3 separate regions of the Homo sapiens genome follow, and regions 1 and 2 are each linked to region 3. Evidence: fine-mapped expression QTL. A gene starts in region 3. Each other region holds a variant in brackets. All regions are shown on one strand. Distances are from middle to middle.

Evidence for each region. PIP is the estimated chance that this variant, and not a neighbour inherited with it, causes the effect. A credible set is the group of variants that fine-mapping cannot tell apart.
Region 1: its variant is the best candidate, but not a certain one, in a credible set for the expression of KIAA1549 in esophagus mucosa (GTEx, PIP 0.76).
Region 2: its variant is the best candidate, but not a certain one, in a credible set for the expression of KIAA1549 in nucleus accumbens (GTEx, PIP 0.86).

Annotation. Positions count from the first base shown.
Region 1 is chr7:138,949,767-138,960,442 of GRCh38, reverse strand. The region is part of intron 1 of KIAA1549; the gene reads left to right. Among named protein-coding and RNA genes, the nearest start is that of KIAA1549, 26 kb to the left of the region's middle. The variant G/A (reference allele first, on the strand shown) is at 4,888.
Region 2 is chr7:138,818,443-138,829,118 of GRCh38, reverse strand. No RefSeq gene overlaps it. Among named protein-coding and RNA genes, the nearest start is that of ATP6V0A4, 26 kb to the right of the region's middle. RefSeq lists an enhancer at 6,685-7,239. The variant G/A (reference allele first, on the strand shown) is at 5,601.
Region 3 is chr7:138,978,357-138,989,032 of GRCh38, reverse strand. KIAA1549 reads left to right here and starts at 7,644. Exons shown (of 20, transcript NM_001164665.2): 1 at 7,644-7,950. The coding sequence starts at 7,764. RefSeq lists enhancers at 6,867-7,216, 7,839-8,725 and silencers at 7,197-7,326, 7,347-7,726, 7,767-7,896, 8,736-9,030.

The DNA.
Region 1 (10,676 bases), 29 kb after region 3:
CAGCTACTTGGGAGGCTGAGGCAGGAGAATCGCTTGAACCGGGGGGCAGAGGTTGCAGTGAGCCGAGATAGTGCCACTGCACTCCAGCCAGGATGATAGAGTGAGACACCATCTCAAAATAAATAAATAAATAAATAAATCAATAAATCAATAAAATAAAATTTATTTTTGTAGAGATGAGGTCTCACTATGTTGCCCAGGCTGGTCTCGAACTCCTGGCCTCAAGTGATCCTCCTGCCTCAGCCTCCCAAAGTGCTGGGATGACAGGTGTAAGCCACCATGCCCAGCCTCATGTATATTTTTTGACACAGTATTTACACTATCTCCTCTGCCACAGAGCTCCAGGGCACAAATTCTGTTTCTCCTGGACCTCAGTGGCCCGGTCAGCCTTTGACCAATTGGAGTTGGGCTGTCACTCTAATTCCTGTTTGATTCACCCTATCTTGGAGTAATTTTTCGACACATTTCAGAGCTTGTTTGTGTTAAGGGACCAGTAGTCTCTCTTTTGCTCTCCAGTCCTGGGAACTGACCTGATCCCACATGGGTGTGACATTTGGAATTGAAAATTGTTAGTCCTTGAGAGCACTGTTTAAAGAGGGGTCGGGTCTGATTAAGAGGCACAGTTGCTCTCTGATCCTCACAAATGAAGTTAGGTTTACACCTTTTGGCCCAGTAGTTCAGCTCTTAGGAATGTATCAAGTTACACCTCTTTGACAGTTAAATCTACATAAATTTATAAAGGGATTTATGAATGGATCTTCTAATCCAGAAAAAGTAATGCTTCTAACTTAATGTAAATTTAAATAAATTTTAATTATGACCAAACTTCGCTGACATATTTCATGCTGAAATAATTGATAACCAACAGTCAGGGTTAAAAATGATCATAACAAAGATGACATTTTTCTCCATTCGTAAAATGCGCGTTAGGTTAATTGCAGGCTTTTTATGGGAAATAAACATAAAGACCCTTTGTCCTATGCAGGTTGGGCCTCTCTGCCATAAGCCCCCACTCCCTTTTCCTAATGATGGGAGCCCCGTTAGCGTCATCTTTTTATTCCACAATGTCCAGCACAATGTACTGCGTGAGAGATGGATGCATGAATATGTAGATAAATGGGACTTTCCCTAGTTGTGTATGGTCGTGATTTGTGGTGCTATTTAAGTCTTGATGTTTAGTTGATTGCCAAGAGGGAATGAATTAATGTATAGCAGATTTTTGGAGTTATATTAAGGTCATTTGTTTAAAAAAGGATGTATGAGAACTTTTGTCTCAGCACTTTGGGAGGCCGAGGCAGGTGGATTACTTGAAGTCAGGAGTTGGAGACCAGCTTGGCCAACATGGTGAAACCCCGTCTCTATTAAAAATATAAAAATCAACCAGGTGTGGTGGTGGGCGCCTGCAATCCCAGCTACTCGGGGGGCTGAGGCAGGAGAATCACTTGAATCTGGGAGGCGGATGTTGCAGTGAGCCGAGATTGTGCCACTGCACTCCAGCCTGGGTGACAGAGCAACACTCTATCTCAAAAACGAAACAAACTAAACAAAACAAAAAAAAAACCTTTGGGCTATAGTGCAAAAACAAATCTGTATATCTCGAATTGTGTAACTGGTACGTACCTGGACAGGAACAACTTCTGAATCATACTGGTTTGTTTGGATCATCTTGGATTGTTGCTGAGTGACCCTGAGGAAGTATTGCCGTCTACTGTTCGGGGTTGCTAGGAAGAAACCAGTCCTCTCTATACCAGGGAAGAAGAGTAGCTGATGTGAGACAGTGGGATAGTAATAAGCTAAACGAGGGGGAGAGAAAGAGATTTAAATGACAGTCCCAGGCAAGGCTGTCATCATGGGATGTAAGTGAGACTGTTAAGCTCCTGAGTCATAGAACTTTACAGCTGGGAAGTTATATAAATATTCATATATATGTCAGTTTCCACTTCTGTGGCCCTGACAAGATGCCTCAGGGCCTGCAGCTTGGGGATCCAGGCTGTAGGAGTTGAAGACTGTTCCTTTAGGGCATAGCCAACAGGATGAATTTCAGCCTTTTAATCATTCTGTTTGAGATTCAGATTTTGGGGAGAGAGCCTGGGGCTTGGGATAGTTGCCCGTCCCTTGGTCAGGAGAGAATGAGCATCGTGGGTGATGGTGGCACCTAGATCCGGTGCCATGGTGGAAGGAGTGTTCCCCAAGGCAAGACTGGGGTGGGCGTGGGCGCCAGGCAGGCTGAACCCGCAGATGGCCCCTCTTGTGGCCCGCGCATGTGGGTCACATGCCCACTTATGCTCAGCATACACACACAGGCACACGCATAATCATTAACGTGCATGTATCCAGAGGATAACAGTCGTGCAAAGACGAGGAAAGACAAATATGTATTCACAGACGTTGTCAAAGGAAAATTCAAAACGTAGATGCATGAGTACAAGCATATAGATTAATAGCAATATATGCAGAGATGCACATACAAGGAAATGCATGCATGAATACAGACACACTGACTCATGAGTATGCACCCATAGCGAAATGCACGGTTGCTTGGAGAGGAAGGAAGGCTGAGTAGAAGAAGTGGACAAAGAGAGAATAAGGGACAGTAGAGATGAGGTGGCAGCAAGTGACCCTGGGATACCAGTTGGGTCCATAGGTACATGTTTTTAGGAAAGTTGACTGGGTGCAGTGTCTCATGTCTGTAATCTCAGCACTTTGGGAGGCTGAGGTGGGCGGATCAGCTGCGGTCAGGAGTTTGAGACAAGCCTTGCTAACATGGTGAAACCCTGTCTCTACTAAAAATACAAGAATTAGCTGGGTGTCATGATGCGAACCTGTAGTCCCATCTACTCTGGAGGCTGAGGCAAGAGAATTGCTTGAACCTGGGAGGCAGAGGTTGCAGTGAGCTGAGACCATGCCGCTGTGCTCCAGCCTGGGCCAAACAGCGAGACTTCATCTCAAAAAGAAGAAGAGGAAGAAGAAGAAGAAGAAGAAGGAGAAGGAGGGGGAGGGGGAGGGGGAGGGGAAGAAGAATAAGAAGATAGTGGGCCAAGATTTAGGATTTGACTTTGGGTTTCTGTTTGTTCCCTTATTGCTGGGCCCTCGGCTCAGTTCCTTGCCAGTGTGTTCACTACATTCACTTGATTAGGACCATGTGGTGCCTCACATGGCAGTGTCTCTGGTTTGTTCAATCCTTGTTTTTCTTGATTTGCAACAGCCTCCTCCTCTCCCCTCTCCTACCTCATTGCCTGCCTCTCCTGTTAACCGTATTGCTCTGGCAGTATGGTCATTCCCCATATGGGGAACTGCGTTGAACTGTTTTATGCCCCTGTGCCTTTGCACATGCTGTTCTTTCTGCGTGGAATGCACTTCTCTTCCTCATTTGCTTGATTCTGTACTTCCCTCAGGAAGACTTCCAGAAATCCCAGAATGATTTGGATGCTCATTGCCCCTGTGCGTCCCTATTATAACTCTGACCACTGTGTTATGATTGTTCCTAACTAGTTTTTTGAGGACAGAGATTGTGCCTTAGCCCCTCCACCTGGCACTGGGCCTGGCAGAGAGTAGGCCCTCAATAAATATTTGTTAAATCACTAAGTGGGTGGGTGTGTAGGAAGGAATGCTTCTATGAGTTAACAATTAAATAGGTAAATGATCATATGAATGATTGAATAGATCAGAATTAATAGCAACTTGGTGTATTAGTCCGTTTTCACAGTGCTGATAAAGACATACCTGAGATTGGGTAATTTATAAAGAAAAAGAGGTTTAATGGACTCACAGTTCCATGTGGCTGAGGAGGCATCACAATCATGGCAGAAGGTGAGAGGCACGTCTTACATGGTGGCAGACAAGAGAGAATGAGAGCCAAGCGAAAGGGGTTTCCCCTTATAAAACCATCAGATCTCGTGAGACTTATTCACTACCACCAGAATAGTATGGAGGAAACCACCCCCACGATTCAATTATCTTCCACCAGATCCCTCCCACAACACATGGGAATTATGGGAGCTACAATTCAAGATGAGATTTGGGTGGGACACAGCCGAACCATATCACTTGGTGAATTCAGTACCGTGGCTTCTCCCTGGATTTGTAAGCTGCTTCATAAAGCTGGGCTTCTTTTTATCTTTCTCTTCCCCTTAGCTGCTTTCTCCTCCTGAATCCTAACTCAGAATGCCTTTTCACACCTTCTCTCCTTTCTTGAAGATCACCTGGAACTACATCTTCATTCCAGACCTGTTCCATGAACTAAATCCCTGTGGGTGATTAGCTGTCATTTTAAACCCAGTGCTGACTTTGGGAGGCTGAGGTGGGCGTGTCGCTTGAGGTCGGGAGTTCAAGACCAGCCTGGCCAACATAGTGAAAACCCGTCTCTACTAAAAATACAAAAATTAGCTGAGCTTGGTGGTGCACACCTGTAGTCCCACCTACTTGGGAAGCTGAGGCAGGAGAGTTGCCTCAACTCAGGAGGTGGAGGTTGCAGTGAGCCAAGATCGCACCACTGCACTCCAGCCTGGGTGACAGAAGCAAGACTCCGTCTCAAAACCCCACCCCCCAAAAAACAACCGTCAGTGCCTCAGTTCCCTGCATGTTGATTCCCTCTCTGTTGGGATAAAAAAAGTTTGTCTCTGATTATAAATGGTCCTCATTTGTAGGTACTTTGGAAAGTACAGAAGTATATTTAGTAGAAAATAATCATCTTTATTTCTGCCACCTAACAATAACTATTATATAAACAGTTTGATATGCATCTTCCTAGTGTTTCAAAATATGTATATGAGACTTTACTTTTTTCATAAAATGGGATCATGCTATGTATACAATTTGCATCTTGCAGTTTTCATTATATTGTAAACATTTTCATGCCATGATATACTTTCACCCTGCTGTGCCATC[G/A]TCACCACCATCCATCTCCACGACACTTTTCATCCTGCAAAATAGAACCTCTGTACCCATCAAGCAACTCCTCATTTCCCCTCTCCCCTATCCCCTGGCATCCACCCTTCTACTTTCTGTCTCTATGAATTTGACTCCTCTATGTACCTCCTGTAAATGGAATCATCTAGTATTTCTTTTTGTGCCTTTGCATAATGACCTCAAGCTTCACCTGTGTTGTAGTGTGTGTCAGAATTTCCTTCCTTTTTGAGGCTGAGTGATATTCCATTGTGTGTATGTGCCACCGTTTGTTTATTCATTCATCAGCCAGTGGACAGTTGGTGAGTTGCTTCTGCCTTTTGGCTATTGTGAATTACAGTGATTTATTTTTCACTTCTGTTTTTAATACCAGACTGTGGACAGTGGGGGTCAGGGACAGTGTTTGACTCACCTCAGTTTCCTCGAAATCTAGTGGTGTCTCTGGCACATAGTAGGACACTGATCGGTGTTTGAATGAAGACATGGCAGAGCCAGTAGAGGGTGCTTCAGAGGAGGGCTGTGTGTGCGGGGACTTAATCCGAGGCCTGCTGCTGTCTGTGGTGCCAGCAGCCTCTTGGGCGGTGTGGCTTGCTTGCCCCAGGATGTTACTGTCTCCCTGTCCCCCTTATCCTCAGCCCCTGGGTCCCCCTTCCAGATGCCCCTCACATCTGCTGCTTTTCTTTCCCTGCCTTCTCTTTGGTCCTCCCCACCTGATCTGAGATCATTCAGTTTCTTCTGCAGGACGGGAATCTTCCTGCAGTTCCTGCACAAGCACCCTTCTCTGGAAGCTTCAGTCACTCTGCACGGGCCAGGTACCTCTCCACGAGCGGCAGAGGCTTCCGTGAGCCTGGAGGGTGGTCTGAGACAACATCCGGAGGGGTGATCCAAGTGGAAAACTGCTTATGGCATTGTTGTGGGGGGAGGGGGGTGCCACGGAGGCAGAGGAATTACCTGACAGACGAGGAGGAACCAGACCATTTTTGGCCAGAGAACAGGAGCCTGAGGAGTTCTCCCAGGCTATCGTAGAGAGCCTGCGCTTTGGCAGGGGGTGGCTGTTAAGGATGCCAGCTTGTTAGATAAAATCCACACTGCTTAGTTTGGCAGTTCAGGTCTTCTGTAGTCTAACCCCAGTACCCACCCAATCTCCATCCTGTCCCTGCAGGAATGGCCCACAGTACGACTTAGCCATGCCCCGTGAGGCCTTCTGTTCTTTCTTTAGTATCTTACTCATGCTCTTTTCCCCAAAGGGAGTGCCTGCCCAGGTTCCCCAATTTTCTAAATTCTGGCCATGTCCAGAGCAAAGTTTAGCTCTTATTTTTACCAATAGAATTAAATTGCACGAATGCGCTCTGCTTCATATTCTTCTAGCAATTTCTGTCTACCATCGTATATTTATTTGCTGTTGTTAGAAGCCAATTTTTATTACTAATCTAACTTCTTGTGCGTATATCCTTTCTCCTTAAATAGCTTACTAGCCTAGCGCCTTGCTAGCATTTTGCACATAGAAATATGACTGTTGATTACTAAACATAATATTTCATTGAAACTAAGATACCATCAACAGTGTGATGCACCATTTATTTTCTGTACCTCTGAGAAAGATCATGAAGAAAAAATACTGCCATTTAAACCGTACGTACCAATAACTAGATTCACCCCGATTTCAGATATCTTAAAATGTGAAAGAACAGGTCTTAGAATGGATGAATCACAGTAGATATGAAATAAGTGCTTGTTTAGTTTATTTTATTGTGTATGTATTTGTATTGTATGGAAGATAGATGAGAAAATTTATAAACATGGCAAGAAAAGGCCTTAACATTTTATTACTTAAACATTTCCAATTAAATTCTTGTCGAGTCTCTGCTTGGGAATATGGATCACATAGCTTTCCCTTTTGAATTCAGCATATTTACTTGTAGTATGTATTCTTTCTTTAGGAAGCTTCCCTTGTTTTATTTCACCTGTTTTCTTTCATATTTTGTTTTTTCACTGTAGATTTACGCTTTTTTGTGTACTATTTTTCTGGCAGTGTTTTATATAGGAGGGATGACCCTTCTTAAAAATGTATCTTTTTATAATTGCTTATTTTTATCATTCCTTTTTCCTATTATTATTGTGCTTAAAAAGTAGAGATGAAGCTGCACTTATTTATTATTTACATTTTTTTGTTTTTGTTTTTGAGACAGAATCTTGCTCTGTTGTCTAGGCCGAAATGCAGTGGCCTGATTTCAGTTCACTGCAGCCTCCACCTCCCGGGTTTAAGTGATTCTTGTGCCTCAGCCTCCTGAGTAGCTTGGACTACAGGTGTGCACCACCATGCCTGGCTAATTTTTGTATTTTTAGTAGAGATGAGGTTTTACCATGTTGGCCAGGCTGGTCTCGAACTTCTGGCCTCAGGTGATCCACCTGCCTCGGCCTCCGAAAGTGCTGGGATTACAGGCATGAGCCACCGTGCCCAGCTACAGCTGCTTTTAAGACGAGTGATTCAGAACAGACTTTTGAAGCAACAAAATTTGATCACTTCTCATCTTAAAAGAGAGCTGACTCATTTGTCCTTACGGGTAAATCCATCACTTGGTGATAGGAGAATGGTGATAGGAGAATATTCTGAATATTCAGTCTAGACTCACTTGCTCCTTATTTGCCTCCAGGCCTCTCCTTGCCAGGCTTTCTCCTTACTGGATGTTATTTACCAAGGGTTTCCACTCATTAGGGGTGGTGATGCTTGTTTTAAAGGTCTTCTAGAACCTTCTAGATAGAACACCTCCTCAGGATCTGAAAATCTCAAGATATCACAAAGTAACAAGTAATCAGAGCCAGAGCTAGTGTCTCCAATGCCAAGTTGCATGAAAAATACATTTTTAGACTTGAGTATGCAACTTTTGTTAAAGATTCCTCATTAGGCGGTTATTGTATTAGCAGCTGGTTAGAACTTCGTGCCCTGGGAATTCACGTCAGCCCTTCACAGCTCCTACTGTGTAGAGATGAGTGACCTTTATGAACACCATTTGATATGCAGAGTCCTCACTTTATTCCTGGGAACTACATTTTTCCTGATTTTTACTGGCTGAGAAGAACAGGAACAAGAAAACATGTTTGTTTGTCTGTGCTCTCAAACTCATTTCCCCTTAGGGTTCCTGATTGTTAGAATACTGCTCTCTTGCCTTAGCCTGATTTCTTTGATGTGCCTCATCTTGTTTAGATCCAGAATCCCGGATTCTTATTTTTCTAGGCCATGTTATTAATAATTACACGAACAACTGGCATTGTTTTTGAAAGCTTTGCCACATGTCAGTCCAGTGGCTCTTGACCTTGTGCAGATTATAATCACCTGGGAAGTTTTGAAATCCCAGACCATCCTCAGCCACATTGAGTCAGAACCTCTGTGGGTGGATCCAGGCACGGGTAAAGTGCCGGGGGCTCTGACCTGCAGCTAGAGTTAGTGCCTTCCGTGCGTTCACCCGTGCAGTCCACGTAACCACCCTGTGTGTTCTTTTCCTCATTTTATAGATGGAATCACTGAGGGCAGGATTGGTTAACCCAGCATTCATGGAGATTCCAGTCCAGATTGTTCGATTCCAGAGGCGATTCTTTTAGTATTTCTTTAGTTAACGCACTGGAGCCAGACTATTTGTTAAAACCAAGCAGTTGCTTTCCGTAGTTTTTATAAAGGTAACTTTTTAATGGTCATTTATGAAGTGCTTTTAAATTCCTGGATGTTGCTTAGACATATGTATTATGTTCTTTTCTTGTATAGTTTTCTCATCATGATGTATAGAATTTCTGTTGGTTCAAGAGTATTTGCCCCATTAGCATTTTTATGAACTCAGATTGTCCCTGAGTGATCTTAGAGGAGTGACTGGTTAAGTTTTGGGTACTTTATAAAAATCTGTGCTCATTTTAAATCACTAGTTTTATGGGGAAAGCAGGTGTCGTCATCTGACAAGTGGGTTTATAGCTTAAGCCAGCACGATTGGGGAGCAGCTCACTGAACTGCAGAGACAGACATAGGCAGTGCCAGGGCCAGCCTGTGTAAGCAGACCATTCAGAGAGAACGTGCGGGGAGAGGATGGCAACTGTGCACTCAAGGAAACACCCAGGGAAGGGAAGGGAAAAGAAATAGTGGCAGGGTGGCAGCAGAGTCAAGGAGAAACTGTGCTAGGGAGAGAGGACCACTGATGTTTGAAGGTGAGAGAGATCTAAAGAAGTGGGAGAGGCGAAGACACGGGTGGAGGGAAGTGTCCGTGAACCCTGAATCCTGTGATGCCCTGTCCGGGATTCAGGTTCCTCCAGAGGGAGGATGCGGCTGGGCATGGTGGCTCATGCCTGTAATCCCAGCACTTTGGGAGGCTGAGGCAGGAGAATCGCTTGACCTGGAGAGGCGGAGGTTGCAGTGAGCCGAGATTGCACCACTGCATTCCAGCCTGTGCAAGGGAGTAAGACTCTTATCTCAAAACAAAACAAAACAAAACAAAAAAACCAGAAGAGAGGGTGCAAAGGATGGGGAGGGTTAGGGCGGGCCTGACCTTGGGGATGAAGGAGTAGGTAGGGAGGTAACTGGTGACAGCTGGGCCGAGGTGAGGGCGAGGTGGTCGGGGACCTCATGTGACATGATGCTGATAACCTCAGCAGGGTAGAGAGAGCGTCTGATGAAAGTGTGGCGAGGTGGTCGGGGACCTCGTGACATGATGCTGATAACCTCAGCAGGGTAGAGAGAGCATCTGATGAAAGGTTTCAGCCCCCGGGGAGATCCAGAGTCCTGGAGCCACAATGAGGTGGGAACCCCCATACCAAGACATACATGCAGGATTGGGCCAGAGCTGGCGGGCCTCGGCCACCTTTGCTGTCAGTGGTGCCTGGGAACAGTGCCTGGAAGCAGCATGGAAGATGCGTCCCTTTTGCAGCAAACCGAACTTATGTGAGGGTTGCCCTGAGCATGGAAGATAAATCTGAAGTGATTATTCTTGTACCAAATAGTCTTTAAATGACAAGAGTCCCCTAAGCCACCTTAATAGAATGAATTTGTATTCCAGAGGTGGGTTTTCACACAGCTCTTCAGGAATTCATCTCCCTGCACGCTTAAGTGAAGGCTCTCAACTCCTTCTCCTTTCTTGAAAGACAAGGAAGGCTGGAAGGGAAATTAGAGGCAGGCTTTCCTTTTCTGACCAGCTTAGTTGAGTGGCTTTCAAACTTTGTTAGGGCGATCTGTTAGTTGTGTGTTTGCAAGTTTGATAGATATTTAGTTTTTGAAATTTTATATATATTCTGAAATTTTTTACGATTATAATAAAAGATCTAATGTATTAATATATGAGTATTTGTAAGTATACAATGAATTTTCACAAACTGAATGGCTGTATAACAACACCAATATCAAGAAACAGAACATGACCTGCCCTTCAGAAACTCTCATGTCCCCTTCCAGTTACTACCATCCCCAGCTGAAATATTAAGTCAGCACATGGCAATCCTGCCATACACACGTTTTAACACAATGGAGACCACGAAGTGTTAGCTCATGGTGCTGGGATAACTTGTTCCTGTGCAGATCTGAAATAAGGTGGCCTCAGCCATCTTCTTGAAAATTTGGCACCGACTAGGAAGATTGTGGGGCTTGGCACCGACTTGAAGTCAGGTGTACTCGCTGCTCTCGTGATATTGCGTGAATTGCCCCGGCCCCTGCTGGGGTTGGCTCAGATGTATTAGAATGTGTGACCCACCTGTGGGTCTCTGAGAGTCTGGCGTGTCATAGCCAGTCCTGGGTTCTG
Region 2 (10,676 bases), 160 kb after region 3:
AGTTACTAGAAACAGCTAAGACTTACAAGAAAGGGCAGGCTGATCCCACGCTCAGAGCCTGAACCCCCAGTTCAAATGAATATAACCAGGCGCGGTGGCTCACACCTGTAATCCCAGCACTTTGGAAGGACGAGGCAGGCGGATCACGTGAGTTCGGGAGTTCGAGACCAGCCTGACCAACATGGAGAAACCCGTCTCTACTAAAAAATACAAAATTAGCCGGGTTTGGTGGCACGCGCCTGTAATCCCAGCTACTCAGGAGGCTGAGGCAGGAGAGTCGCTTGAACCCAGGAGGTGGAGGTTGCAGTGAGCCGAGATCATGCCATTGCACTTCAGCCTGGGTGACAAGAATGAAACTCTGTCTCAAAAATAAATAAATGAATAGGGATTTGAGTCATAATTGGCATTTCTTGTCCCTCTGTCCTCTTCCTCTCTGCACCTGCCAAGCAGAGCTTAAGGTAAGAAGAAAAGAATAACAAGAACAGAGATCCTTTTGTTCAGTTTCTAAGTTAGATTATTAATGAAAAGTTCTCATCGGATAGTGCCCTATTAAGTAACTTTCTCCCTCTACAGAACTCGGTACTTTCCTTGCCACACCCTTCTGCACATCCTGGAATAAATGGGGGTGGGTGAGTTTGATTTCTCTACTGCTGAAGACTTGAAAAATTGTAGCCACAAATCTAGGTAAACCACATTTGTGTAGCTGAACTATTATTTGTTGTATTTGTGCCAAAGTATAGCATTACAGAAGTGTAAGACACAGAACCTATCTGGAAAACTCATAAAGCTGTTTCTGAGTGCCTGATTGGTAGCTGGTTCCATCAGTATCTTGAAAATATGCGTTAGTTTAAGTACAGGTATACCCTGGAGATACTGGAAATTCGGTTCCAGACCACTGCAGTAAAGCAGGTCACGAACTTTGTGATTTCCCACTGTATACAGAAGCTATGTGTAGCTATACTGTAGCCTATTAGGTATGCAACAGCATTCTGTTTTTTTAAAAAAGCATACATGCCCTGATTTAAAAATACTTTGTTGTTAAAAAAATGTTAACAATTATTTGAGCCTTCAGTGAGTCCTAATGTTTTTGCTGGTGGAGGGTCTTGCCTCCATGTTGATGGCTGCTGACTGATCAGGGTGGTGGTTGGTGAAGGTTTGGGTGGCTGTGATAATTTCTTTTAAAATAGAACAACAATGAAGTTTGCCACTTCCGTGGACACTTTCTTTGACGGAAGATGTCTCTGCAGCATGTAATGCTGTTTGATAGCATTTGACCCACAGTAAAACTTCCTCCAAAATTGAAGTTAATCCTCCCAAACTCTGTCACTTCTTTATCAACTAGGCTTATGGGATAGTCTACGTCCTCTGTTGTCATTTCACTGATGTTCACAGCATCTTCATCAGGCCTAGATTCCATCTCAAAAAACCACTGTCTTTATTCATCCATAAGAAACAACTCCTCAACTGTTTAGGTTTGACCATGAGACTGCAGCAGTTCAGTCACATCTGTAGGCTCCACTGCTAGTGCCCTTGCTATTTCCACTCCATCTGCAGTGACTTCCTCCACCAAAGTCTTGAACTCCTCATCCGTGAGGATTGGAATCACTTCTTCCAAAGCCCTATAAATGTTGATATTTTAACCTCCTCCCATGAATTACGAACGTTCTTTTTTTTTTTTTTTTTTTTTGAGAGGGAGTTTCACTCTTGTTGCCCAGGCTGGAGTGCAGTGGCGCGATCTTGGCTCACTACAACCTCTGCCTCCTGGGTTCAAGCAATTCTCCTGCCTCAGCCTCCTGAGTAACTGGAATTACAGGCATGAGCCACCACGCCTGCCCGGCTAATTTTGTATTTTTAGGAGAGATGGGGTTTCTCCATGTTGGCCAGTCTGGTCTCTAATGCCCGACCTCAGGTGATCCGCCCACCTCGTCCTCCCAAAGTGCTGGGATTACAGGTGTGAACCATGGCGCCTGGCTAATTATGAATGTCCTTAATGGCATCTAGAGTGAGGAATCATTTCCAGAAGGGTTTCGATTGACTTTGCCCGGATCCATCAGGGGAGTCACTATCTATGGCAGCTATAGCCTATAGCCTTATGAATTTTTTTTTTTTTTTTTTTAGACAGGGTCTCATTCTGTCACCCAGGCTGGAGTGCAGTGGTACGATTGCTGCTTACTGCAACCTCCACCTCCCAGGCTCAAGCGATCCTCCCACCTCAGTCTTCCCAGTAGCTGGGACTATAGGAGCGTGCAACCATACCCAGCTAATTTTTTTTTTTGTATTTTTTGTAGAAACAGGGTTTTGCCATGTTGCCCAGACTGGTCTCGAACTCCTGACCTCAAGCAATCCGACTGCCTCAGCTTCCCAAAGTGTTGGGATTACAGGCATGAGCCACTATGCCTGGCCTGAAATGTATTTCTTAATAAGACTTGAAAGTCGAAATTACTCCTTGATTGATGGGCTGCAGAATGGATATTGTGTTACATATGAAAACAACATTAATCTCTTTGTACATCTCCATCAGAGCTCTTGGGTGACTAGTTGCACCGTCAATGAGCAGTAATAGTTTGAAAGGGATCTTTTTTCTTAAACAGCAGGTCTCAACAGTAGGCTTAAAATATTCTTTAAACCATGCTATAACAGATGTGCTGTCATCCAGGTTTTGTTGTTCCATGTATGGAGCACAGGCAGAGTAGATTTAGCATAATTCTTAAGGGCCATAGGATTTTCAGAATGCTCAATGATCATTGGCTTCAACTTTAACTCACCAGCTGCATTCGCCCTAACAAGAGAGTCAGCCTGTCCTTTGAAGCTTTGAAGCCAGGCATTGACTTCTCCTTCTCCTCTCTTGCTATGAAAGTCCTAGATGGCATCTTCTTCAATAGAAGGCTATTTATCTACACTGAAAATCGGTTTTTTGTTTGTTTTTTTTTTTTGACACGGAGTCTCGCTGTGTCACCCAGGCTGGAGTGCAGTGACAATCTTGGCTCACTGCAACCTCCACCTCCCAGGTTCAAGCGATTCCCCTGTCTCAGCCTCCTGAGTAGCTGGGATTACAGGCATGCGCCACCATGCCTGACTAATTTTTTGTATTTTTAGTAGAGCCGGGGTTTCATCATGTTGGCCAGGCTGGTCTCGAACTCCTGACCTCAGGTGATCCACCCGCCTCAGCCTCCCAAAGTGCAGACATTACAGGCATGAGGCACCATGCCCAGCCTGAAAATCTGTTCTCTACTGTAGCCACCTTCGTCAGTTATCTTAGTTAGATCTTACGGTTAACTTGCTGCAGCTTCTAAGTCAGCACTTGCTGCTTTACTTTTTTATGTTATAGAGATGGCTTCTTCCCTTAAACCTCATGAACCAACCTCTGCTGGCTTCAAACCTTTCTTCAGCTTCCTCACCTCTCTCAGCCTTCATAGAATTAGAGAGCACCTTGCTCTGTATTAGACTTTGGCTGAAGGGAATGTTGTGGCCAGACTGATCTTCTATCCAGACCACTCAAACTTTCTCCATATGAGCAATAAGGCTGTTTCGCTTTCTTCTCCTTTGTGTGTTCACTACGGTAGCACTTTTCATTTCTTTTAAGAAGAACTTTTCCTTTGCGTTCACAACTTGGCTGTTTGGCACAAGAGGTTTAAACCGTGTCAGCTTTCAACGTGGCTTCCTCACCAGGCTTAATCACGTCTAGTTTATTTAAAGTGAGTGACGTGCACCTCTTTCTTTCACTTGAACACTTCAGAGGCCATCGCAGGGTCAGTAATTGGCCTAATTTCAATACTGTTGTGTCTCAGGGAATAGGGAGGCCTGGGGAGAGGCAGAGTGCGAGGGAACAGGTGGTTGGTGGAGCAGTCAGAACACACACAACATTTATTGTTCTTAAGTTCGTGGTGTTCTATGGGCATGGTTCATGGTGCCCCCAAACAGTAGTAACATCAAAGATCAAAGATCACGGGTCACCATAACAGATGATTAAAGAGTTTGAAATATTGCAAGAAGTACCAAAATGTGACTCAGAGACCTGAAGTGAGCAGATGCTGTTGGAAAAATAGCACCAAGCTAGTCATGGTGGCTCACGCCTATAATCCCAACACTTTGGGAGGCCAAGGTAGGAGGATCACTTGATCCCAGAAGATTGAGACCAGCCTGGGCAACATAGTGGGACCTGTCTCTAAAAATATTAAAAAATTAGCCAGGTGTGGTGACCCACGCCTGTAGTCCCAGCTACTCGGGGTGGCTGAGGAAGGAGGGATTGCTTGAGCCCAGGAGATCAAGGCTGCAGTGAGTCAAGATTGCACCACTGCACTCCAGCCTAGCTGACAGAGTGAGACCCTATCTCAAAAAAAAAAAAAAAAAAAAAAAAGACAGAAAAATAGCACGAATAAACTTGCTTAGAGTTGCCACAAATCTTTGATTTGTAAAAAACACAATATCTGTAAATCACAATGAAGTGAAGCACAATCAAACGAGGTATGTCTGTATATGGATTTTCATTCTGGGATATAGTATTAGAATATACCCCAGATCAGTAGTTCCTTTCATTAAGCATTTTAAAATTCTGAGATTGTTTCAAAGAAAATGTTAGTGCAAGAAGTTAGGAGAAAAACAGGGCTTAAAAGGTAAAATGGGGCCGGGCGTGGTTAATCCCAGCACTTTGAGAGGCTGAGGTGGTTGGATCACCTGAGGTCAGGAGTTTGAGAGCAGCCTGGCCAACATGGTGAAACCCCGTCTCTACTAAAAATACAAAAATTAGCTGGGCATGGTGGAGGGCACCTGTAATCCCAGTTACTTGGGAGGCTGAGGCAGGAGAATCGCTTGAACCCAGGAGGCAGATGTTGCAGTGAGCTGAGATTGTGCCATTGCACTCCAGCCTGGGCAACAGCAGCAAAACTCTATCTCAAAAAAAAAAAAAAAAAAAAAGTCAAACAGGGTTCCTGCATTTCAGAACAAATGAGTGTTGGTCTTTTTTTCCAACAGTAGCTCTGCACTGTGGCTGCTTTTGAAGAGCAGCAGGGATGTTCTATATTTAGCAGAATCCAGAAGTAGCTATTCCCCTTGGATCCTCCCAAAGCTGTAAATGAGAGACAAGAGTGATCGCTACCTAGATTGGAAGTCCGAGAACCAGTGTGTGCTTGGGTCTTGGTATTACTTTTCCCAGATATTGTTCTTTCTGGGTTCCTAGTGAGACAAGTTTAATATACAAATTAGGAGTAAAGTTAAATTTTTTAAAAATTTTGGAAAGATATAATTAGGCCAAATTTAAATTAGAACATCACTAATTTAAATGTGGCCTAATTATATCTTTTTTTTTTTTTTTTTTTTTTGAGACAGAGTCTCACTCTGTCACCTAGGCTGGAGAACAGTGATGTGATCTCAGCTCACTGCAACCTCTGCCTCCTGGGTTCAAGTGATTCTCCTGCCTCAGCCTCCTGAGTAGCTGGGACTACAGGCACCCACCACCATGCCCAGCTAATTTTTGTATTTTTAGTAGAGATGGAGTTTCACCATGTTGGCCAGGCTGGTCTCAAACTCCTGACCTCAGGTGATCCACCCGCCTCGGCCTCCCAAAGTACTGGGATCACAGGTGCAAGCCACCGGGCCCAGCC[G/A]AATTATGTCTTTTTAAAGCCTATTCACTTAACTTTTTTTGTTCTTCCTTTCCTGGTCAAAATGTGAATTAGCAAAAATAAAAGAAATAAAAACCTGTATAACTCTACCACCAGAGACACTGGCATCAAAATTTTGGTAAATTTTGGTCTTTTTAAAATAATAAATAAATAAATAAATAAATAAATAAATAAATAAATAAATAATCCCAGCATTTTGAGAGGCCGAGGCGGGTGGATTGCTTGAGCCCAGGAGTTCGAGACCAACCTGGGCAACATGGCGAGACCATATCTCTACTAAAAAATATATAAAAAATTAGCCAGGTGTGTTGGTGCACATCTGTGGTCCCAGCTACTTGGGAGGCTAAGATAGGCTGAGAATTGCTTGAGCCTGGGAAGTGGAGGCTGCAATGAGCCAGAATTACATCACTGCACTTCAGCCTGGACAACAGAGCAAGACCCTGTCTCAAAAAAAGTTAAAGGCTGGGTGCCGTGGATCATGCCTGTAATCCTGGCACTTTGGGAGGCAGAGGCAGGCAGATCACTTGGGCCCAGGAGTTTGAGACCAGCCTGGGCAACGTAGCGAAAACCCATCTCTACAAAAAATACAAAAATTAGCTGAGTGTGGTGGTGCACGTCTGTAGTCCGAGCTACTCAGGAGGCTGAGGTGGGAGGATCACTTAAACCAGGGAGACAGAGGTTGTAGTGAGCTGAGATCATGCCACTGTAATCCAGCCTGGGCAACAGAGTGAGACCCTGTCTCAAAAACAAAAAAATTTTTAAATAACAAATAAATCTAAGCCAACTTAATGTTGTTTGGCGATCGGGACGGATGGGGATGATTTTCTTTCTAATTGACCTTCTGGTAAGCTATTGGTTTGGATTCCAGAGTACACAAGGGCAGAGGGTGGCAATAAAAGGATAAGAATTTGTGTGAGATGCAATCCGGAAAGAAAGATCAGAAGATATTCTGGGGCTCTCCAGCAGCCATTTTTCTAACTGCTGGAGGGAAATGGCACCCAGCAGCTAGAGCATCCTAGGGAGTCCCACCCTTTTGTGCCTATCCTGTGCTCTAGTTGACAGGCAATGCCCCACTGACCTCCTGATACAGTTCATGGAATTTTGCAGAGGTTTCCCAGGTTTGTGGCTGAGATGAGAACTTCGTGACTAGGCAAGCCGGGTCCAGAAAGTGACCCTTGGTTTTGAGCCTTTGTCTTTAATGCTGGACAACGGTGAGACTTAGCTCACAAGCTGCATTTTTAGGGACCCTTGTGAAAAACATCTGTATCGATGTCTTTTCCTTGACTGCAGGACTCTCTTTAACTGCTATCCAGGTGAACCTATCAACTCCTCATAAGGCATTTCCTGCCACGGCTGGTGTCCCGCTGTGACTCCCCCAGCCACCGATCAGACAGGAATGAACCAGAAGTAGCTTACCAACTATGAGGTTGGTGCAAAAGTAATTGCGGTGTCATCATTACTTTTAGTGGCAAAAACTGCAATTACTTGGCACCAGTCTAATATTTCTGTGTTGGGGCTCAGGAAACAATACCCCAAAATATGGCACTCTGACATGCTGACCTGAAGAAGAGGTCTCGAGTTCTCTCTGACCCCGCTGCCTCCTGTCTCTCCATCCTCTGTCTCTCCCGAAATACAGGATGAAGTTGTTCTCTGAGGTTCCCTTATCTGCCTAACATCTGGACTTACAAAAAAGAGAAAAGTGACCTCTGGTCCCTTCCCTGAGGTCTTGTTAACTGAACTCATATCGCAGGAAGAAAGACTAAGTCTGTCAATGCAACTGGACAGACTTTTGTCACAAATCATTGTCTGCTCCGCAGGCACAACAGACTTTGTCTCAGGTCATTGTATGTTCTTCAAGCCCATTGAATTCCCTTACAAATCATTTACTATCCCCCAAAATGGCCCGCGCTTCCCCGTCTCCCTTTCCTCTAAGAAGAAGGGTCTAGAACCATTTGTACCCATCGTGTGGTGTGGCAATCACTGAGTAATTTTCCTCCCCCGTGCATGCTAATCAGTTTGTGCGCCATTACCCTTAATAATCTGCATTTTGTCCGTTGATTTTTCAGTGAACCATCAGAGGGCAAAGGGTAAGTTTCCGCTTGACCCAGACATGTGCAAGGCCGAAAGTATGCTTTCGCCTGTGACAAAGTCCTCCACACTTCAATCCCTATCAGGATAATTAAGGTTTCACCTTCTGATGTAACTGGCCCCTGAACCTCAGAAGCTGGGGTAAGTATCTGCATACTTGTCACATCTTTGTGTTCAGAGTTAACTGAATTTTCAGATGTCTCACAATTTTAGAAAGATTGTGATGGATGGCAAAATCAGAATTCAAAATGGTATTGACAGGCTAAAACACAGAGCCAAAAATCAAGAAAATTTTATTTAATCCTATTAAAGTTCTAGGTTAAAAAAAAAATCTGGGGCATGGCGTGGTGGCTCACGCCTGTAATTCCAACACTTTGGGAAGCCAAGGCGGGCAGATCACGAGGTCAGGAGTTTGAGACCAGCCTGACCAACATGGTGAAACCCTGTCTCTACTAAAAATACAAAAATTAACTGGGCATGGTGGAGGGCACCTGTAATCCCAGCTACTTGGGAGGCTGAGGCAGGAGAATGGCTTGAACCTGGGAGGCGGAGGTTGCAGTGAGCTGAGATCGTGCCACTGCTCTCCAGCCTGGGCGACAGAGCGAGACTCCATCTCAAAAAAAAAAAAAAAAAAAAAAAAATTCTGGCTAGGCACAGTGGCTCAGGCCTGTAATACCAGCACCGTGGGAGGCCGAGGCGGGTAGATTGGCTGAGGTCAGGAGTTCGAGACCAGCCTGGCCAACATGGCAAAACCCCGTCTCTACTAAAAATACAAAAATTAGTCAGGCTTGATGGTGGGTGCCTGTAATCCCAGCTACTCGGGAGGCTGAGGCAGGAGAATCACTTGAATCCAGGAGGTGGAGGTTGCAGTGAGCTGAGATTGTGCTACTGCAGTCCAGCCTGGGCGACACAGAGTGACTCCATCTCAAAAAAAAAAAAAAAAAAAGAGAGAGAGAGCTCCCAGAATTGTATGTGCTAATGGGAGTGATCCATGGAGTGGGGGAGGTTATGGATAATGCAAAAGACAAAGGAGAAAGTGAGAGGAATTGGGATTCAGAGCATAGTGGGGGAACTCGCCTTCAGATGGGGAAACAGGCCTTCAGAAGAACAAGAGTATTTCTCTATTGTGCAAAGGAGGGAAAGCATAGGACACAGGCCAAGATTCAGGTCACTCTGTTGATGTGCAAAAATTGGCAACCTTTTTGGTTCTGGAAAAAAATAGTTCCCAGTGAATATGTTACCATTTCTTTAGATTTATAAGCCTTGGGATTTTTTTAGTAGGTAGCAGAAACATTATTTCACAGCAAATTGTTTAATTTTGTGCTTTTTAAGAGATAACTCTGTTTCATTTTCCATGGCAAATAAGATACATTCAGAGTAATGGTGTCTGTTATTTGGTGTAACATAATGATTGAGTAACATGGTATTATTTATTCTTTTAAATTTGTTAGCGTATGTTTTATGGCCTAGAATATGGTCTGTCTTATGAATTTTCCATGTGAGCCTGAGAATCATGGGTATTCTGCTGTTGCTGGATAAAGTGTTTCATAAATGTCAATTAGATCCAGTTGATTGATGGTGCTGTTCAGTCCAACTATGTCCTTACTGATTTTCTGCCTGTGGATCTGTCAGTTAATGAAAGCGCAGTGTTGAAGTCTGCAGCTCTAATAGTGGATTAGTCTATTTCTCCTTGCAGTTTTATCAGTTTTTGCCTCACACATTTTGATGTTCCGTTGTTAGTTGCATGCACATTAAGGATTGTTATGTCTTCTTGGAGAACTGGTCTCTTTATCATTATATAATGGCTGTCTTCATCCTTGATAAATTTCCTTGCTCTGAAGTCTGCTGGTCTGAAATGAATATAGCTACTCCAGTTTTCTTTTGGTTAGTGTTAGCATGGTATATCTTTTCGTCATCCTTTACTTTTAAGCTATCTGTCTTTATAGTTAAAGTATGTTTCTTGTAGACAACATATAGTTGTCTTGTTTTTTTTTTGGTCACTCATATAGTTTCTGTCTTTTAATTGATATATTTATACCATACAAATTTAAAGTGATTATTTATTTGGTTGAATTAATGTCTGCTATATTTGTTATTATTTTCTATTCGTTATCTTGTCCTTTGTTTCTCTTTTTGGGGGATCCTCACTTTTCTGCTTTCTCTGGTTTATCGGCATTTTATTTATTTTTATTTATTTATTTATTTTTGAGACAGAGTCTTGCTTTGTCACCCAGGCTGGAGTGCAGTGGCACAATCTTGGCTCGCAGCAACCTCTGCCTCCTGGGTTCAAGAGATTCTCCAGCCTTAGCCTTCCAAATAGCTGGGATTATAGGAGCGCGCCACCACGCCCGGCTACTTTTTGTATAGTTTTTTAGTGGAGATGGGGTTTCACCATGTTGGCCAGGCTGGTTTCGACCTCCTGTCCTCAAGTGATCCTCCAGCCTTGGCCTCCCAAAGTGCTGGGATTGCAGGCATGAGCCACTGTGCCCAGCCTTGAGCATTTTATATCATACTATTTCCTCCTCTCTCTTCGCATATCAATTATACTTTTTTAAAACTTTTTTCTGCACTAAAGTTTGCAATGAACGTTTATGACTAATCTAAGTCTAATTGCAAATGACACTAGACTGCTTTATGGGCATCCAAGCCCTTTACACATCAGATGGAAACCCAGAAGACATGGTGATGTTTAATTCACAATTAACCCCACCCCAAACACACATGTGCCGACCCAGACATAGAGCTTCCCCGCTAGTGTCGCCCAAAGTTACTATGCAACTTACTCAAACTAATGGGTTGTGCAACCTAAATGCTTTGTAACTGAAAACACCCCTCTACCAGGGTCAAAGATGAAGAGTCCATTAAAAACAAAAAATTAGAAAGAAATAAAATTGAGTGGTGTGGTTTTGCTAGAATGTTTTAAAAGTAATTGCTAGAATGTAATATGATGTGGCATACCCTAATAATCAC
Region 3 (10,676 bases):
CCCCTTCATACATTCACTTCCCAACTCCTCTCTAAACTTGATTTCCTTTCCCAGTAGTAACGACTGTTTACACTCATACTTTTTTAAAAAGTGGGTTTACAATCACAATCCCACTTTTTTTTCATTAGTGGGATTATACTATACAGTATCTTACTCCCCCATGCCCATGTAATATGTGAGTCTTCCATGGAAGAGAATACAAAGTCTAGAAATAAATCCACACATACCTAGTCAATTAATTTTGAGAAAATATAAAGTCAATTAAATGGCAAAAGGATAGTCTGCAACAAATGGTGCTATAACAACTAGACATCACACCCACAAAATTAACTTCAACCCTTTAATCTCACAAAATACATCAAAGTTGACTCAAATGGATCATAGACTGAAACATAAGAGCTAAAACATTAAGTTTCTGGATAGAAACATGAGAGAAAATATTTGTGACCTCGAGCTAGGCAAATATTTTTTAGGACACAAAAAACATGAAACAAAAAAGAAAAAAATAATAAAAAAGTGTATTTCACCAAAGTTAAAAACCTCTTCTCTTTGAATATCTTAAGAGAATGAAAAGACAAGTTATGGACTAGGAGAAAACATTTGCAAAACACACATCGGATAAAAGATTTGTATTTAGAATACATAAATATACAATTTGGTAAGATTTGAACAGACATGCCACCAAAGAAGACATATTGATTGCAAATAAACACATGGAGAGTGTTCAATATCATTAGTCATGAGGACAAGGCAGATTAAGTGCACAATGAGATATCATTAGACACTTGCTAGAATGGTTCAAATTAAAAAGGCTAACAAAATCAAGTGCTAACAAGGGTATGGAACAACTAGACCTTTCATACATTGCTGGTGGGGATCTAAAATATATCCCACCTGGGAAGACAGTTGGGCAGTTTAAATTTACATTTATCACGCCACCCAGTTAAATTTACATTTATCACATGACTTAGCAGATCTACTCCTAGGTATTTACCCAAGAGAAATGAAAACATATGTTCACACAAAATACCTGAAAACAAATGTTTTTAGCAGCATTATTAATAATGACCAAAAACCTGGAAACAATCCAAATGTTCATCAGTTGGTGACTGGACAAATTGTGGTATATCCATTCAATGGAATACTACTAAGCAATAGAAAGGAACAAGTTACTGACGCATGCAACAACTTGGATGAATCTCAGACATTATGCTAAGTAAAAGAAACCAGACACAAAGTGCTACATACTATATAATTCCATTTATGTCAAATGCTGGAAAAGGCAAAGCTGTAGAAACAGAAATCAGATCAGTGGCTGTCAGAGGGAGGGTATGGGATAGACTGCAAGCTGGCACAAGGGAACTTTAAGGGCAATGTAAATGTTCTTTACCTTGAATGTGGTGGTGGTTATAGGATTTCATAGAATTGTTGAAACTCACTGAACATTTTTAAAAGGTGAATTTTCATCAAACTGCTTATGATTGTGGATAGCTTTGTTCTTTGCTTCTTGTGTTTTTCAGTTTCCTGAATTGTACATATTAACTTTTAAAAAATAAAGATTATTTTTAAAACCTGAAAAAAAAAAGGCGAACTTTTATTTATTTATTTATTTATTTTTTGAGACAGAGTCTCGCTCTGTCACCAGGCTGGAGTGCAATGATGTGATCTCTGCTCACTGCAACCTTCGCCTTCCGGGTTCAAGCTATTTTCCTGCCTCAGCCTCCCGACTAGTTGGGATTACAGGCACGCACCACCACACCTGGCTAATTTTTGTATTTTTAGTAGAGACGGGGTTTTGCCAGGTTGGTCAGGCTGGTCTCAAACTCCTGACCTCGTGATCCACCCATCCTGGCCTCCCAAAGTGCTAGGATTACAGGCATGAGCCACCACGCCTGGCCAAAAAAGGTGAATTTTATCTGATTAAATTACCTGACTAAATTTGCCAGCTGAATTAAACTTGACTTGAAAAAAAAAAAAGGAAAAGGAAGTGAGCTGATTTTATATTTTGATAGATAAGGTCAAATTATCCTCCAAAATGGCTACACCAGTAGAATTCGAGAGTGCCTATTTTGCTATACACTTGAATATACAAATGAATATAATCAAAATTTTAAAAGTTTTGTCTGTTTGATGGTGAAAAATATTTTGATCCTTGATATTCATGCAGCAGCATTAAGATCTTGTTCTGGCTAGGTGCAGTGGCTCACGCCTGTAATCCCAGCACTTTAGGAGGCCGAGGCAGGCGGATCTCGAGGTCAAGAGATGAAGACCAGCCTGGCCAACATGGTGAAAACCCGCCTCTACTAAAAATACAAAAAAATTAGCTGGGCGTGGTGATGTGCGCCTGCCGTCCCAGCTACTCGGGAGGCTGAGGCAGGAGAATCGCTTGAACCGGGGAGGTAGAGGTTGCAGTGAGCATAGATTGCGTCACTGCATTCCAGCCTGGTGACAGAGCTAGACTCCATCTCAAAAAAAAAAAAAAAAAAAAAATCTTGTTTTAATTGGTCTCCTCTTTAGTCTTTTCTCTTTCCAAATCATCTTATATAATGTTAATAGAGTAATCCTTCTTGTGCTTAGTTCTAATAATATCTGAACAAATCTTTAATGATCCACCGTCACCTACAAAATTAAGTCCAAACCCTTCAGCCAGATCTTTAAGCTCTCCTTGTTCTATATCAGCTTCCCTTTTCTCTCTTCTCTGCTGCGCCTCTCTAGGTCTGGTATGTCTTACCACTTTCAGTAAGTGATTATAAAGTCTCACTCTTAGACATCTAGCTCAATGGTTCTTACACACTGGAATCCTGGGAAGCTTTTAAAAGACAGGGCTGTCCAAGCCTGGTCTGCAGAGATTTGGATTTTACTGGTCTGAAGTGTGGCCTGGGGGTGTTCTGTTTTGTTTTGTTTGTGGTGTCCAGGTGATTTTAATTTGCAGTCAGCATTGTGAACCACTGCTCTAGCTGATCTGGCCATCAGCTAGATAAATTTCATGCATTCCTGCCTTTATATTTTTGTACTGTTGGTTCCCTCCACCTGGAACACCTGTCCTGTTCTCTTTAGCTGTCCAAGTCCTCTTCATTTTTTAGGCGCCCCCTAACACCCAGCTTCCATGCAACACTACACTGAAGCTTTGCTTGATCTCTTGTGCCAAATATGATTTCTACTTCTTTGAACTTTTTTTTATAACTTCCTTCGGACATCTGTCATGTTCTACTTTGCAATATGTAGGTTTTTAAAATTTGTTTTTTTTTTTCCCGTAAGACTGTAAGCTCCTTGAAAAAACTGTAGACAATTATTATTTTTTTTTTTTTTGAGGCAGGGTCTAGCTCTGTTGCCCAGGCTGAAGTGCACTGGCATGATCACGGCTCACTGCAGCCTTGACCTCCTCAGGCTCAGGTGATCCTCCCACCTCAGCCTCTCGGGTGGCTGGGACTACAGGTGCACGCCACCATGCCTAGCTAATGTTTTGGATTTCTTCATAGAGATGGGAGTCTCACCATGTCGCCCAGGCTGGTCTCAAACTCCTGGGCTCAAGCAATCCACCTGCCTCAGCCTCCCAAAGTGCTAGAATTACAGACGTGAGCCACTGTGCCCGGCCTAATTAATCTTACTGATCATTTAGCACATGACTCTACGGGGCGCTTACTTAGTAGGGACTCAGTAAATATTTTTTGAATGTTTATTCTGGCTACTTCTCCACTTTGCACAGTTGTTCCCTCTGCCTGACACCCTCTTCCCCAGCTATCCCCATGGCCCAATGTCACCTTAGTAGGGTGATCATCCCTGACTATTCTATTTAACACAGTAACACTGACCCTTCCCTCACTCCTTTTCCCTCTTTGTTATTCTGCAAATTGTTGTCATCAGCCGAAGGCTCACTTACTGATTGCCTGTCTCCTCTCACTAGAACATAAGTTCCACGAGGAAGGGCCTTTGTTTTGTTCACCGTTATACCTCCAGTGCCCACTGCACTGCCTGGCATATGGTACATGCTCAAAAAATATTCATTGAATTTAATGAATGACCTTTGTGAACATTCATCTTATTTTGTATAATTCTCTTAAGAACCGAACCCACAGCTAAGCAAGGTAGGCATGTGAAGCCCATCATCAGATAAGAACATTTGAGGTTTGAGAGTAGGGTGAAGCATTTTGTTCAAGTTCATAAACTTTTCTGTGACAGAGCAGAACGCAGAACTCAGCTGTCCTGATTCCTATTCTAGGACTCTCACACTACCCTCTACCGACTTCCAGCCATCCTCTAACTTCAGTCCCTCTGTCCCATCCTTATCCAGACCCTAAGAATTGAGGGGCCCAGGTCAAGAGTGCAAATAGGGGCTCACGCAGCCCATTTCACATTTGGCCATTTTGGCCATTTCACATCGATGACCAGATTTTCATCAGCAAGTTACATGCCAAGCAAGCAAACTATTAAATATGTCTGTTCTACCTTAACAAACGTATGTCTTCAGAATGGTTAGGCTGGTTCACAGGCAGGATTCGCAGACTTCCTGCAGTTGTGAGCAGAACATCGCAGCCAGGTTGCCATGTGAATATGGGCCATGCCCGATCTTCTCTTCCCATCCCTGGTCCTCTGCTTCATTCCTATAGGTTTCATGTGCGCATCTTTAGAGATGCCTCCTGCGTAAGTTTTGCCACTCCCTAGCAAACAACTACCCCGTGGGACCAGACACACCCTTGGTGCAGCCTTGGGAGAATGGACTTGAGGAAGAGGCCACATAGGCCTGAAGATGAGCCTGGGGTGAAATGGGCAGGATTCTGGGGTCCTGGGCACCTGAGCATGGGAAGATGGGCTGCTGGTGAGGGTGCTTCCTGGGCTTCACAGACTCTGTCCTGAGGAGAGAGGTGCAGTTTGAGAAGGCCAGAGTGGGGCCCGCTTCGTCTAGGTCTAAGGATAGTACTGAGCCTACCTCTCCCTGTCTCCAAACCAGATTGTAAGCCTATCGAGGACCCAGGTTAATTTTCCCCCTCCCCTGGAGGGTGTGTGGTTTAACTGGAGACGACAATTCCAGTTGGAGTTGAGCCTTATGGAAATAAACTAACCTCTCTGGCTTGTTTCTTTATCTATGAGAATTGGATGAGATGATCTCTAAAATCGATTTTAAAATCTTACACACACACACACATTTGCACACACTCCCCTACCTCCAAGGACCACTCATCCCCTCTGAGTCTGCAGAGTAACACCACCTACCAGCTGGACTGTCAGAGCCTGGTAGACATTTTCCCAGACATGGAGGCAGAATGCCTTAAATCCTAACAGAGGTAAGATTTTGTTTTATGCCTTCAGAGCTGGGAGACTAAGGGACCCTAGGGACCTCACTTTCCACGGACACTTTGGTGTCCATGAGTCATTTCTAGTATCTCAGGGTTCCAATTTTTATTTTTACTTCCAGCTGATCAATCTCTTAATGGCAGGGCAAACACTATTGTCTTTGAGTTTGCAGAGAATGGAGAAGGAGACTCCTTTCTTTTTTCTTTTCCTTTTTTTTTTTTTTTTTTTTTTGAGATGGAGTCTTGCTGTGGCACCCAGGCTGGAGTGCAGTGGCGTGATCTTGGTTTACTGTAACCTCCGCCTCCTGGGTTCAAGTGATCCTCCTGCCTCAGCCTCCTGAGTAGCTGGGATTACAAGCACGTGCCACCATGCCTGGGTAAATTTTTCTGTGTTTTTATTAGAGACGGGGTTTGCCATGTTGGCCAGGCTGGTCTTGAACTCCTGACCTCAGGTGATCTGCCTGCCTTGGCCTCCCAAAGTGCTGGGATTATAGGCGTGAGCCACCGCGCATGGCCGAGGGAGGCTTTTTTCTCTGACACCAACGGGTCTAGTGTAGATGGCAGCTTGCAGGAGGCTGAGGCCAAATCTGAAGATGGAACCTCTTCACGGGCGGAATGCATGCTCTGGCTCAAACCAACGATTGTCTACTGAGGGCTTACTGGGGCTATGAGAAATCCTAAGCAGGATAGCACCATATTTGAATTTCATATTAATTTATTGGAGGTGGGGTGGGGGCTGTGTGTGCAAAGCATAAATTCATAAAAGATAAAACAACACAACAGGACAAGACCATTCAAGAGTTGCACGAAGGCAGTGGTTTGTGGTCAAATGTGCTGTTATAGAGAGTTCAGAGAATAAAGATAAGTGTGTGAATAAGAGGTCCCAGATCTATGGCCATGGTGTCCTGGGACCAGACATATCTGGGCAGTTTCTCTTAGGTACTTACCTGGGTGTGCACGCAGAACCCTCTTTGGGAGACAGGAGCAGTTACTGTAATAAACATAGGGGCTGTATGATGGGGGGTTACAATAACGTGTAAAAACACCAGGAACATCAACAAAAGCTTTTTTTAACCTTTATTCTCATTTTCCTTGAAACTACCAGGTTTCAAGTACCCACCTGTAAGGACCAGGTGTGTACCTACAGAAGAGTGCCCCTGTCCTATTCTTAGGAAGAACTATTCGCCAAGGGCAAGGAGTCCAGAAGAGTTGGAGCTGCAAGGCTGGGCAGCCCCTTCAAGGGCTGGGCCTGGCAGGGGAACCCGACTGAATAGCCGCGAGGATCCCTCTGCCAGTGTAATGATTCACCTTTTCCGCTGTCTGCCATAGTTTTTCTGCACGAGATAGTGTCCCCCACACACACCGTTAATATCTGCTTGATGCAACAATGCCAGTGGGATGCAACGATTCAAAACTTCCAATTCCTCCTCCCTAGACCCTGAAGCCACGGGGCGTCTTCAGAGTGACGTGCCTGGCACACAGTAGGTACTTGACAGATGTCAACTCCCTTCTTCCCGTTCCTCATTCCCCCCGCGGACTCCAACCCTCAAACGCTCTCTGGGCATTCTCTCCACCTCTCAGGAGCGCCACTTTCCCTAAAACGGCCTGGCCTTGCGGGTCTCCCCAGCTCCACGCCCATTCGCTTCAGCAGCCGCCTGCTCAAGGCCTGCTAAGTGCAGGGTCCCGCGGGCCTCCCAGGCCCTGAGCGCAGGGTCGCTTCCCGAAGACCCGCAGAGGTGGCCGCACCTTCTTAAGGCAGGAAGGCGGGGGAGAGCTGCGTGCGCTCTGCTCGCCCCTGCCTTGCACGCTGAGCTCTAGCGCAGGAGCCCGACTTTGTCTGGCTTTGTCCCCTCCGCGGCCCCGAGGCTGTCCTGAGAGCGCGGCGCCCCACACACCTGCTGCCCGCAAGGAGTCGGCGGGAGAGGAGGAGCGAGGGAGGCGAGAGGACCCCTCCCCCGGCTTGCCGGCCTACCCTGATCCGGGCGCCCCGGGGAACGCGCGGCGGGACCCGGGGTTGGGTGCGGGTCGGGGCGGCACCGCCCGGCCCAGGCCCCCCGAGCCCCTCGCGCTCCCTCCGGAAGGCGGGTCCTGGGGGAGGGCTGGGCCGCGCCGCCTCGCCGCCCTTGCCGCCTCTGCCGCGCCGAGCCCCGCGCACGCTGCCCCGGCCGCCCCGCAGGCAGGCAGGCAGGCAGGCAGGCAGGCGTCCGGCCGGCCGGGAGGGGGTGCTCGCCGTCCCGCGCCCGGGCCCGCGCGTTGCCGGGCAGCGGCTCCGAGGCTCCGAAGGGGGCGGAGCGGCAAGGCGGGCGTGCGGCTGGCGCCCCTGTCCTCGGTTCCGGCCCGGCCCGCCCCCGCCTCTCCGGCCTCCCTCCGCGCCGGTGCGCGGCGCCCCGTCCCAGCCGCAGCCGCAGCGGCCGCCCCTCCCGGACCCGAGAGCCGCTGAGCCGCGAGGCCGGGCCGGGGCGCCGGCCGGGAATGCCGGGGGCGCGGCGCCGACGCCGAGGCGCGGCCATGGAGGGGAAGCCCCGCGCCGGGGTCGCGCTGGCCCCGGGGCCGAGCGGCCGACGGCCTTCCGCCCGCTGCGCCCGCCGCCGCCGCCCGGGGCTGCTGCTTCCTGGCCTCTGGCTGCTGCTGCTGGCCCGGCCGGCCTCGTGCGCCCCAGGTAAGCTCCGCCGAGACCCTCGGAACGCGGCCGCGACCCCGCCTGCCTTTATCGCTGCTGTTTTCAAAACCCCGGCTTTCCCCGCCCATCCTCTTTTATTCTCCAGCTCCCTCGCCGTCCTTTCTGGAAGATGCTTTGCCATTCTTCTGGGGCCCAACAAATAAAGGCACGGGGGAAATAAATAATTAAAACGAACAAGCGAGCGGCTTCTGGCCGGTCTTGCTAAGGGGTCTGCAAAGCTGTTCTCTTGTCCATGGAACCCGAAGCGGGTCTGGTGGCTTCATCTCAGAATGTGCCTGGTTTTTCCTGCAGAATGCAGGCACCGGCGTGCTTTTTTGTCAAGGCTGTATGATGTGGCATATCGAATGTTTTGAGATACTTTATTGTCGGGGCGAAGAGGTGGATTCGAGGTGTGCTTTAAAAGAGTATTGCATTACCGGGACAAGCCCAGCGTCCCCCAGATGCGGGCAGGCCGGCCGTGTCCCCCCGTACAGCAGGACACAAAGAACATTCAAAGAAAACCTCTTGGAAAGCGCCCTGGCCACGGATCTTTCCAGGGAAATAGCTATTGGTATTACTTCTGCAAGGCATTATTAGTACAATGGAGTGTGAAAATATTTTGATTCTTAAGTGTCTGGGCATGAAAGGAGTAAGGGCTGTTTTTATAACAGATGCAATTTAGTGACTGTTCATCAGTATGGAATGAAGAGGCATGATTTATGAAGAAGCATAAGGGTTTTGTTGTGGAAGAAATGATTTAATTCCTATTGCTTCTCCAAAATGTTTATTTGTCCACCCTGAGCCTGTACACAGGATGGTCTGGAAACCGTCTCTGAGCTGACACTGCAGGCCAGCGATTGCCCCTGCACAGGCACTTGACCACTTTGAGGCGGAAAAGGAAAGGTGGAAGGAGCAGCTAGGGGTGGAGAGCTGCTGCACACAGAACAAAAACCAGAAAGCCGTGAACGCTGCTCCGAATCCTCCTTTCTCGTGGGAGCAGGGCCAAAGGGCTACTCAGTGGCTGGGAGGAATTGGAACACATTTGAAGGTGTCCCTTGGACCTGTGAGAATTATAACCAGTGCCCTAGAGGGGATGGTACAATAGAAGCACAGGGAGGACTTCAGGGATCATGGAACAGGTCCACTCTGCTTACCAAAGAGGAAACTAAGGCAGAGAAGTGCCTTGCTCAAGGTCACAGTCATCACTTTCCCTGCCTCCCACCCCCGCTCTTGGCCCATAGACATATCCACACCTGAAGCCTCTGCAGAGATTTCCCATAGCTGGGTGGAACCAGGGTTGGGGTGACAGAATGAGTCTCTTTTAGGCAGTATACAGCTAGTGCAAACACCTTACTCTAACCTAGGACCTCCCGTCTCAGTCCTGCTCCTGCGAGTTCCAGCCCTGTGTGTCCAGAGGAGAAGAGATCATTGTCAAGGGTCTCTTGGCTTTAGTCAACAAAGAGAGCCCATCTGATACTCGTGGATTCATCTGTCATAAGACACAGCAGATAAATGGTTTCCATCTCCTGAGTGCTTTTTGTGTGCCAGATGTTGAATTTTATATACACGATCCAATCACGTTGTGAGTTAGGCATAGTTATCCCCATTTTACAGATGAGGAAACTAAGGCTTTGAGTTTAGGTTGGTTTGGCTTCAGACTCTATGACATGCTTCCTTTCTGTGCCTGATGGCTTCCCCATATGAATGTGGCCATCTGGGTGTACTGCAGAGGTTGTGGAGAATATAAGTGCTTCTGGTAACTTTAAAATAAATAGTGAAGCTGTTTGCACTGCCCATCCCTAACCTTCTCTTCTTTGGAAGTCCTTTCCTGCTTCCCCTCTACCCCCAATACAAATATTCAACCTGGAGACATGAAATTAATAATATTTCCATTCTAGACCTGACATCATGGAAAGAGACTTCATCCTTTCACTGGTTTGTATATTGGCTTCAGCCGCTGCCAGGCTCATAGACTAGGAACTAAGAAGTGGAGGGCACAGCCCCTGTGCTCCAGGATCCAGCTGGAAACACAGAGCAGTGAAGGAAGTACAAACCCTTGCACAGACCATTCCCGGACAGGAAAGGCAGGATTCCTTATGGATGACCTGCTGGAGGTGACCCCATCTACTTGAAGACTGTGAGGAACGATCTTGGTGGAGGGTGGCTTCCTGATGTAGCTAGGGTGTGTGTAGGGTGCCTGGGCGGTGCTGTTGATCCTGGGAAGAGGGTGCGTTGCAGTTGCTTGGGCTGCCCTCCCAGTCCTGAGTGTGGTATTTTCACCAGGAGATTTGGAATGTAGGAGAGCTTTGCTGAACACTGCTGTGGTGGTTGGTTCTCTTTCTAAGGAATAAGCAGTGGTAGTCAGAAAATGGCATGGCTTAGACCTGTTTTGGACTTCCTATGTGAGGCAGCATTCCCTTCCGTGGCTGTCTGAAAGCTATCTCCTCCTTCAGCTGGCTTCTCTTGTTAACTTTTGTTCAATAGAGTCCACCTTCCAGGTGGTCCCCTTATTACAGTCTTTGGTTAAATCTCTATGTTAAATCGATTTCTTGTCTATTTGTATTTCATTCAGCATTTTGAGTGTGTTTTTTTAAAAAAAAAATTTACAAGTTTGGTCTTAACCATTGACTGTTGTGGAAACAACTTGTAATGCTTTGGACTTACTTTTGAATGCATTGCTCTTAAGTGATTAGCCATCCACAGTATAAAAACAAAGAATCATGCCC